2 linked regions of the Homo sapiens genome follow. The protein of the gene in region 1 purifies or fractionates together with the protein of each later gene. This does not show direct contact. Each region holds a gene or a part of one and is shown in the gene's direction. Other genes may lie near its edges. The genes, in order: CLK4 and RASA4.

Region 1 (3,816 bases):
TCGAGGTGTTGTGTTGTTTTGTTTGGGGAAGAGGGGCTGGAGATCCCAGCTAGTACTGTTGAGGTTGATTTGAAGTTAGAGCAGTGCAGGGGGCATGCAGCTATGATGGGCTAAGAGTCACTTAGGCAGCTGTTGCACAATGATGAATTCCCTGTTCGTGGGGCACCTCGCCAGATTTCTGTTTCTGTCTAATCTGTAGAGATCCTGTTGAAAAGTACTCTGAGTTTATAGATAAGTTTGATGTCTTAGAATCATGGTTATTAATCAGTTCTGGGAGGTATTGTCTGGTTTTGCAGTGGTGAGCTGTAGGGTCAAGAAAAAGTTAAGCAAAGTGAATGCTTTCATCAATCTGACTAATATGAAATGGATGCTTCCGGTGATTTTGTGATTATAAATCACTTTGAGTTTTAAATGAAGTATATATTATTTGAGAGGTGGTTTATATTTTAACTCCACCCTGCAAAATACTCTTAAACTAAGGAATTTCTTTAAAATGTGAAGCTAGTATTACTTATTCCTGTCATGTATCACAACGATTTGGAAGCAATATGCAAGGCACAGTAGTTGATAGATTTCTTTTAAAAGTGTTGCATACAGCCTCTGCTCTCCAGAACAAGGGTTAGCAAACTTTGGCCCATGGTGAAATCCTGCCTGGTGCCTGTTTTTACAAAAAGAAGAAGAGTATGCAATAGGGACCACTCATGACGAGCCAAGCCTAAAATATTTACTATCTGGCCCTTTACAGAAGTTTGCCAACCTCTGCTCTAGAAGCATACCATTCCAGCTGTAAGTTTGACCGTTTTCTGTATTCTACTTCAGCCAAGCCTCCGTTACTAATTTAAGGATATGTGCTTTGACATGGGTTGATAGCTTAACTTTCCTCATATATGAGCTATATGACTTTGAGGTAGTATCTTAACCTTTTTGAAATTCATGTTCCCACATACCTAGCTCAGAATTGTTTAGAGAATTATTGGGACTGTATGTATGTCTGTTGCCTGGGAGTAGTAAGTGTTAACAAGTGAACTATTCATTGGGTACTGGATGTTAATTTTGGTTAAGCAGCTGATTAAATGAGGAGACAGTTTTTCTGGTAACCTTGCCCAGTTATTCTTTAAACAGTGTAAGAAGTGCAAATAAAGAAGGAAACTAAAATTTTAGATTAAACAAGTTAATGTGTTTGTAGGGAAATGGAGAGTACTAAATTTCTTTTTCTTACATGTTTTAGACTCATGATAGTAAAGAGCACCTGGCAATGATGGAACGAATATTAGGACCCATACCACAACACATGATTCAGAAAACAAGGTATGTTTTAAGATTCAAGACTTTTGTTGGATATGTGCAATAGCATATATTCAAACTACAGAAAACCCAACGTTGTTGTAATACTGATTCCAAGGACTATAGATTTTGACTTTTTTTTTTTTTTCTGTACTGGAGGTAACTTCTAACTTCATCTTACTCCTTTTTTTTTTTTTGAGATGGAGTCTCACTCTGTCACCCAGGCTGGAGTGCAGTGGCACGATCTCAGCTCACTGCAGCCTCTGCCTCCTGGGTTCAAGTGATTCTTCTGCCTCAGCCCCCTGAGTCGCTGGGATTACAGGTGCCCACCACTATGCCTGGCTAATTTTTGTATTTTTAGTAGAGATGGGGTTTCACCGTGTTAGTCAGGCTGGTCTTGAACTCCTGACCTCAGGTGATCTGCCTGCCTTGGCCTCCCAAAGTGCTGGAATTACAGGTGTGAGTCACTGCACTAGGCCATGTTTTTAAAAACTAATATAATAAAAAATATTTACCTTGTGATCTAGTGCAGGGGTCCCCAACCCCTCGGAACTGGGCTGTACAACAGGAGGTGAGTGGCGGGTGAGTGAGCATTATTGCTGCCTGAGCTGCACCTCCTGTCAGATCAGCAGTGGCATTAGATTCTCATAGGAATGTGAACCCTATTGTGAACTGCGCACGTGAGGGATCTACGTTGCATGAAGGTTCCTTATGAGAATCTAATGCCTGATGATCTGAGGTGGAAGTTTGATTCCAAACCATCATCCCTCCTCCCCGGATCTGCTTCCATGAAACCGGTCCCTGGTTCCAAAAGGGTTGAGGACCACTGATCTAGTAAACAAAATGGCTTTTGGGTTTTTTTTGTTTTTTTTTTTTTTTTAACTCAAGTTTACGTTTGCATAAGTGTTTTCTTAAGGCGATGTAAAAATAATACATAGAATATGGAAAAGCTTGTGTTTTGGAATCATATCACTCTAAGTGTGAAATTTATTCTGTCCTTAACCAGCTGTATATTCTTAGACAAGGTGGTATTTCCAAACACAGCTTCATCGCAGAAGCCACCGAGGGAGTTCTTTAAAGATTTCCAGCCCCATTCTAGATCTAGTGAAAACAGAATTTTAGGACTGGATCCAGGGGGCCCCTAGTTTTAAGCTGACATTGTTCCATATGTGATAGGAACAACTTAGTTGAGAGACTAAAACCTCACAGGGTGGAGGATATGAGGTGTCCGATATATAATTGTTGCTGAGGTTTTTAAAAATTGTATGCATCTATATTATATAAGTCTATACACTTAGAGAGAGCTGCTTTCCATGTCTCCCCTCATGGGTGCAGGGTAAAGATACGACTCTTGTTATTTTACTAATCCAGACTTTTTTTTTTTTTCTGTAGAAAACGCAAGTATTTTCACCATAACCAGCTAGATTGGGATGAACACAGTTCTGCTGGTAGATATGTTAGGAGACGCTGCAAACCGTTGAAGGTAAAAGAAAAAAGATTAAAGGTTAAATAAACCACGTGTTTGCACTATTAATAATTTTTTTTAAAACAAAAACATTTCTCCCCCAGGAATTTATGCTTTGTCATGATGAAGAACATGAGAAACTGTTTGACCTGGTTCGAAGAATGTTAGAATATGATCCAACTCAAAGAATTACCTTGGATGAAGCATTGCAGCATCCTTTCTTTGACTTATTAAAAAAGAAATGAAATGGGAATCAGTGGTCTTACTATATACTTCTCTAGAAGAGATTACTTAAGACTGTGTCAGTCAACTAAACATTCTAATATTTTTGTAAACATTAAATTATTTTGTACAGTTAAGTGTAAATATTGTATGTTTTGTATCAATAGCATAATTAACTTGTTAAGCAAGTATGGTCTTGATAATGCATTAGAAAAATTAAAATTAATTTTTCTTTTTGAAATTACCATTTTTAAATACCTTTGAAATATCCTTTGTGTCCAGTGATAAATGTGATTGATCTTGCCTTTTGTACATGGAGGTCACCTCTGAAGTGATTTTTTTTGAGTAAAAGGAAATCTTGACTACTTTATATTCTTAAAGGAATATTCTTTATATACTTCAAATTTAGAACTTAACTTTAAAAGTTTTTCTTCTGTAATTGTTGAACGGGTGATTATTATTAACTCTAGATAAGCAGGTACTAGAAACCAAAACTCAGAAAATGTTTACTGTTAGAATTCTATTAAATTTTAAGTGTTGTATTCTTTTTCATTGGGTGATGTCAGGGTGATAACCAGACATTCATGGAAAGGCATGCAGTTTGTCCATTGTGACAGTTTGTTTAATAAAACCACATACACACTTTATTTAAGATTAAAATCTAACTGGAAAGTCAGCTTGGAAAATGGACATTTCCAAGTATGTTTGGTGAGTCACAGATATAAAAATAGAAATTCTGATGAGAGGTTTCAGTTTTTAATACCAAGTCCTTAGGAGTCTTAACATTGGCCAGCATCTGTTTATCAAATGACATAAATACGTAAACCTATAAGAATTAAGTTTAT
Region 2 (3,816 bases), on another chromosome or scaffold:
CCATAGACCCACGCACCACTGTTTGTGCTTCCTGTGACCCTGCCCACTGCCTGCCGTTGACGTTTGCCCCACCCCTAGACCCATGGCCTCACCCCCCCATCATCTGCGCCTGTTGACATTTGCTCCATCCTTGAGCTCCATAGCCCCGCCGCCACCTGCTACTGACGCGTGTCCCGCCTCCAAGCCCATGGCCCTGCCTTCCTCAGTCCACCTGTCACCCCGCTCACCACCAGCTGTTGATGTTTGCTCCGCCCTTGAGCCCCATGACTACGTCCACTGCCTGCTGTTCAGATTTGCTCAGCCCTTGAGCCCCATGGCCCCTCCCACTGCTCCGCTCCCCCCAGTCCCGCCCTCATTCACTGGGCTCTCTATTCCCCTCCCTCCCTGGCCTGGCAGAGCTGGACCTGCAGCGGACGCTGAGTTTGCAGGCGCCACCTGTGAAGGAGGGGCCACTCTTCATCCACAGGACCAAGGGCAAGGGCCCCCTCATGTCCTCCTCCTTCAAGAAGCTCTACTTCTCCCTCACTACCGAGGCCCTCAGCTTCGCGAAGACGCCCAGCTCCAAGGTGGGTAAGGAGGGAGGCCGGCAAGTGGGGCTCTGAGAGGCCGGCAAGTGGGGCACCTGTCCCCTTCCTTGGAGCCCACTTGAGGTACCCCCGGGGTCAGAGAAGAAAGCCAGGTGTGTGGCATCTGTACTGCTTGTCAGAACCTAGGAGGGCCGGGCACGGTGGCTCACGCCTGTAATCCCAGGACTTTGGGAGGCCAAGGCGGGTGGATCACTTGAGGTTAGGAGTTTGAGACCAGCCTGGCCAACATGGAGAAACCCCGTCTCTACTAAAAATACAAAAAATCAGCCGGGTGTGGTGGTGGGTGCCTGTAGTCCCAGCTACTCGGGAGGCTGAGGCACGGGAATCGCTTGAACCTGGGAGGCAGAAGTTGCAGTGAGCCGAGATCGTGCCACTGCACTCCAACCTGGGCAACAGAGCAAGACTCCATCTCAAAAAAAAAAAAAATGAATATGGAGGAAGTTGATCCGACCTTACCAGGTTGTTGAGGATTAAATGAGATGATCTCCCTAAGGGTCCTGACCCAGGGCCTGGCAGGTAGTACTATTTAGGCAAATGATATTATTAAAGATAGTATATCACCTGGGCTGCTAGATGAGTAGGAGGCTAGGGCAAACAGGGGAGGCTTCCTGGAAGAGGCAGGAATATAGAAGCACGGAATCTTGGCGTGGGAAGGGATCTCAAAGATCACCTTGTACAGCCCTCTCTGAGTCATGGGTCACCTCTCCTGCAAGCTCTCTTCTCCCAGGAAGGGCTGAGGACATACTTCCTCCATGGACCTGGTGACTGCTTGCTGTACACCTGCCCCCAGTCATGCAGGCTATGGGGATGATCTTCCAGGAGTACCCAGCCTAGCCCTGGGCAGGTGAGAGCGGGCTAGGAGTAGGTGAAGGAGCTCATCACCCACCCTGTTCTCAACCAGCTCAGGGGTCCCACCAGATGAGGGGCCCGCCCCTTCCGACCAAAGACCCCTCAGATGATGATAATTATTTTTTGAGACAGGGTCTTGCTCTGTCACCCAGGCTGTAGTGCAGTGGTGCGATCATAGCTGACCGCAGCCTCAAACTCCTGGGCTCAAGCAATCTTCCTACCTCAGCCTCCCGAGTAGCTGGGACTACAGGCACGTGCCACCAAGCCCAGCTAATTTTCTTTAACTTTTTTTTTTGCGGAGATGGGGTCTTGCTATGCTGCCCAGGCTGTTCTCAAACTCCTGGCCTCAGGCAATCCTCCTGCCCCAGCCTCCCAAAGCACTCAGATGATTATTATACATCTTCCTTGCCAGGGTTGAAAGATTTGACTACATGGGCATTATTTAATTCTGGTCCCATTTTTTTTTTTTTTTTTGAGATGGAGTTTCGCTTTTGTTGCCCAGGCCAGAGTGCAATGGTGCGATCTTGGCTCACCGCAACCTCCGCCTCCCGGGTTCAAGCGATTCTCCTGCCTCAGCCTCCCAAGTAGCTGGGATTACAGGCATGCGCCACCATGCCCGGCTAATTTTGTATTTTTAGTAGACACAGAGTTTCTCCATGTTTGTCAGGCTGGTCTCGAACTCCCAACCTCAGGTGATCCGCCTTCCTCGGCCTCCCAAAATGCTGGGATTACATGTGTGAGCCACTGCGCCCGGTCAGGATATGACTATTAGAGCCTGGGACTACAAAAGCAAGTTGGAAAATTAATAAATGCAAAGTCACAAAGCCTTGGCCACGGCCGGATTGACTTTGTAGCCCAGGGAATGCTGGCTGTCCCGACACTACCCCAAAGCTCACACCTCCGAGGCCTTCTGGGAGTGCCCCCCAGAGAGGCCAGGTCCTCCTCTCCCAGTTGCTGGGCACTTGGTCACCATCAGTCTGTGCTCTGCCCTGGCTGAGGTCACTCTAGGTCTCCCATGCCTACCCCTGGTGCTGCAGAAGGGGAGACTGAGGCCCAGAGATGGGGAATGGAATGCCCCTGGCTAGGTCCCTGAGCCTCCTCCTCCCTGCCTGCCCCAGAAAAGCGCCCTCATCAAGTTAGCCAACATCCGGGCAGCGGAAAAGGTTGAGGAAAAGAGCTTTGGCGGCTCGCACGTCATGCAGGTCATCTACACGGACGACGCCGGCAGGCCCCAGACTGCCTACCTGCAGTGCAAGGTGCGGGGAGGGGAGCGGGTGCTGTGGGAGTGGCCTGAACACTGTGGGAGTGGCTTGGGTGCTGTGGGAGAGGCCTGGGTACTGTGGGAGTGGCATGAGTCCTGTGGGAGTGGCCTGGGTATTGTGGGAGAGGCCTGAGCTCTATGGGAGTGGCCTGGGTGCTGTGGGAGTGCCCTGGATGCTATGGGAATGCCCTGGGTGCTGTGGGAATGGCCTGGGTGCTATGGGAGTGGCCTGAGCTCTGTGGGAGTGGCCTGGGTGCTGTGGGAGGGGCCTGAGTGGACTGGATGAGAAAAGAGTTGATTGAGCTTCTCGCCCCGCTACCAGCTACATCAGGCACCGCAGGGTGTGTCTAATCTGGGAGGTGTCAGGGACAGGTGTGTGTGTGTTGTCCAGGGGCCTGAGCCCCCAGGAGGCCATGGCCCATGTCTTTCCCTGGGCATCCATGTGTAGGTCTGTGTGTGGGCCAGTGCACAGACAGGTGCATCCCCGTGATGTGAAATTTGCACGTTGCACCCGTTTGTTGGAAACTATTTCCAGATAACTGAGATGGGGGCCAGGCACGCTGGTTCACACGGATAATCCCAGCATTCTAGCCAGGGCAACAGAGCAAGACCCTTTCTCTAAAACAGAAAGTCTGAGCTGGCACCTGTGTGGTTCTGTGTCTGTATCAATGCCTAATAATCAAACATTATGCTGTGTGTGGCTCTGGGTGCATGTTCTCAAGTAACCTTCTCATCTGTTCCTTCATTAACTCATTCATTCATTTATTTAAAAAATACTTACTGAGCACCTCCTAGGTTCCAGGCATGATTCTAGGTGAGGGGATACAGTGGCAGATGAGGCAGAGTCCTGCCCTCATGGAGCTGATATCCCTGGGAGAAGATGGGCCAATAAATACATGTTTCAAATGTCGGCTCATGCCTGTAGTCCCAGTACTTTGGGAGGCTGAGGTGGGAGGATCACTGGAGGCCAGGAGTTTGAGAACAGCCTGGCCAATGTAGCAAGACCCCATCTCTACAAAAAGAAAATTAGCCAGCCATGATGGCATGCACCTGTGATTCCAGCTACTTGGGAGGCTGAGGCAGGAAGATAGCCTGAACCCAGGAGTTGGAGGCTGCAGT

What was found.
Region 2: the proteins of CLK4 (region 1) and RASA4 purify together in Homo sapiens (affinity purification with mass spectrometry, with the first as the bait; one large-scale study listed by BioGRID). This does not show direct contact.

Annotation. Positions count from the first base shown.
Region 1 is NC_000005.10:178,602,795-178,606,610, reverse strand, and holds part of CLK4 (dual specificity protein kinase CLK4), read left to right. Parts: intron 1-1,228; coding exon 1,229-1,308; intron 1,309-2,676; coding exon 2,677-2,767; intron 2,768-2,853; coding exon 2,854-2,994; 3' UTR 2,995-3,816. UniProt on the Homo sapiens protein: Dual specificity kinase acting on both serine/threonine and tyrosine-containing substrates.
Region 2 is NC_000007.14:102,589,035-102,592,850, reverse strand, and holds part of RASA4 (ras GTPase-activating protein 4), read left to right. Parts: intron 1-396; coding exon 397-566; intron 567-2,554; coding exon 2,555-2,692; intron 2,693-3,816. UniProt on the Homo sapiens protein: Ca(2+)-dependent Ras GTPase-activating protein, that switches off the Ras-MAPK pathway following a stimulus that elevates intracellular calcium. Functions as an adaptor for Cdc42 and Rac1 during FcR-mediated phagocytosis.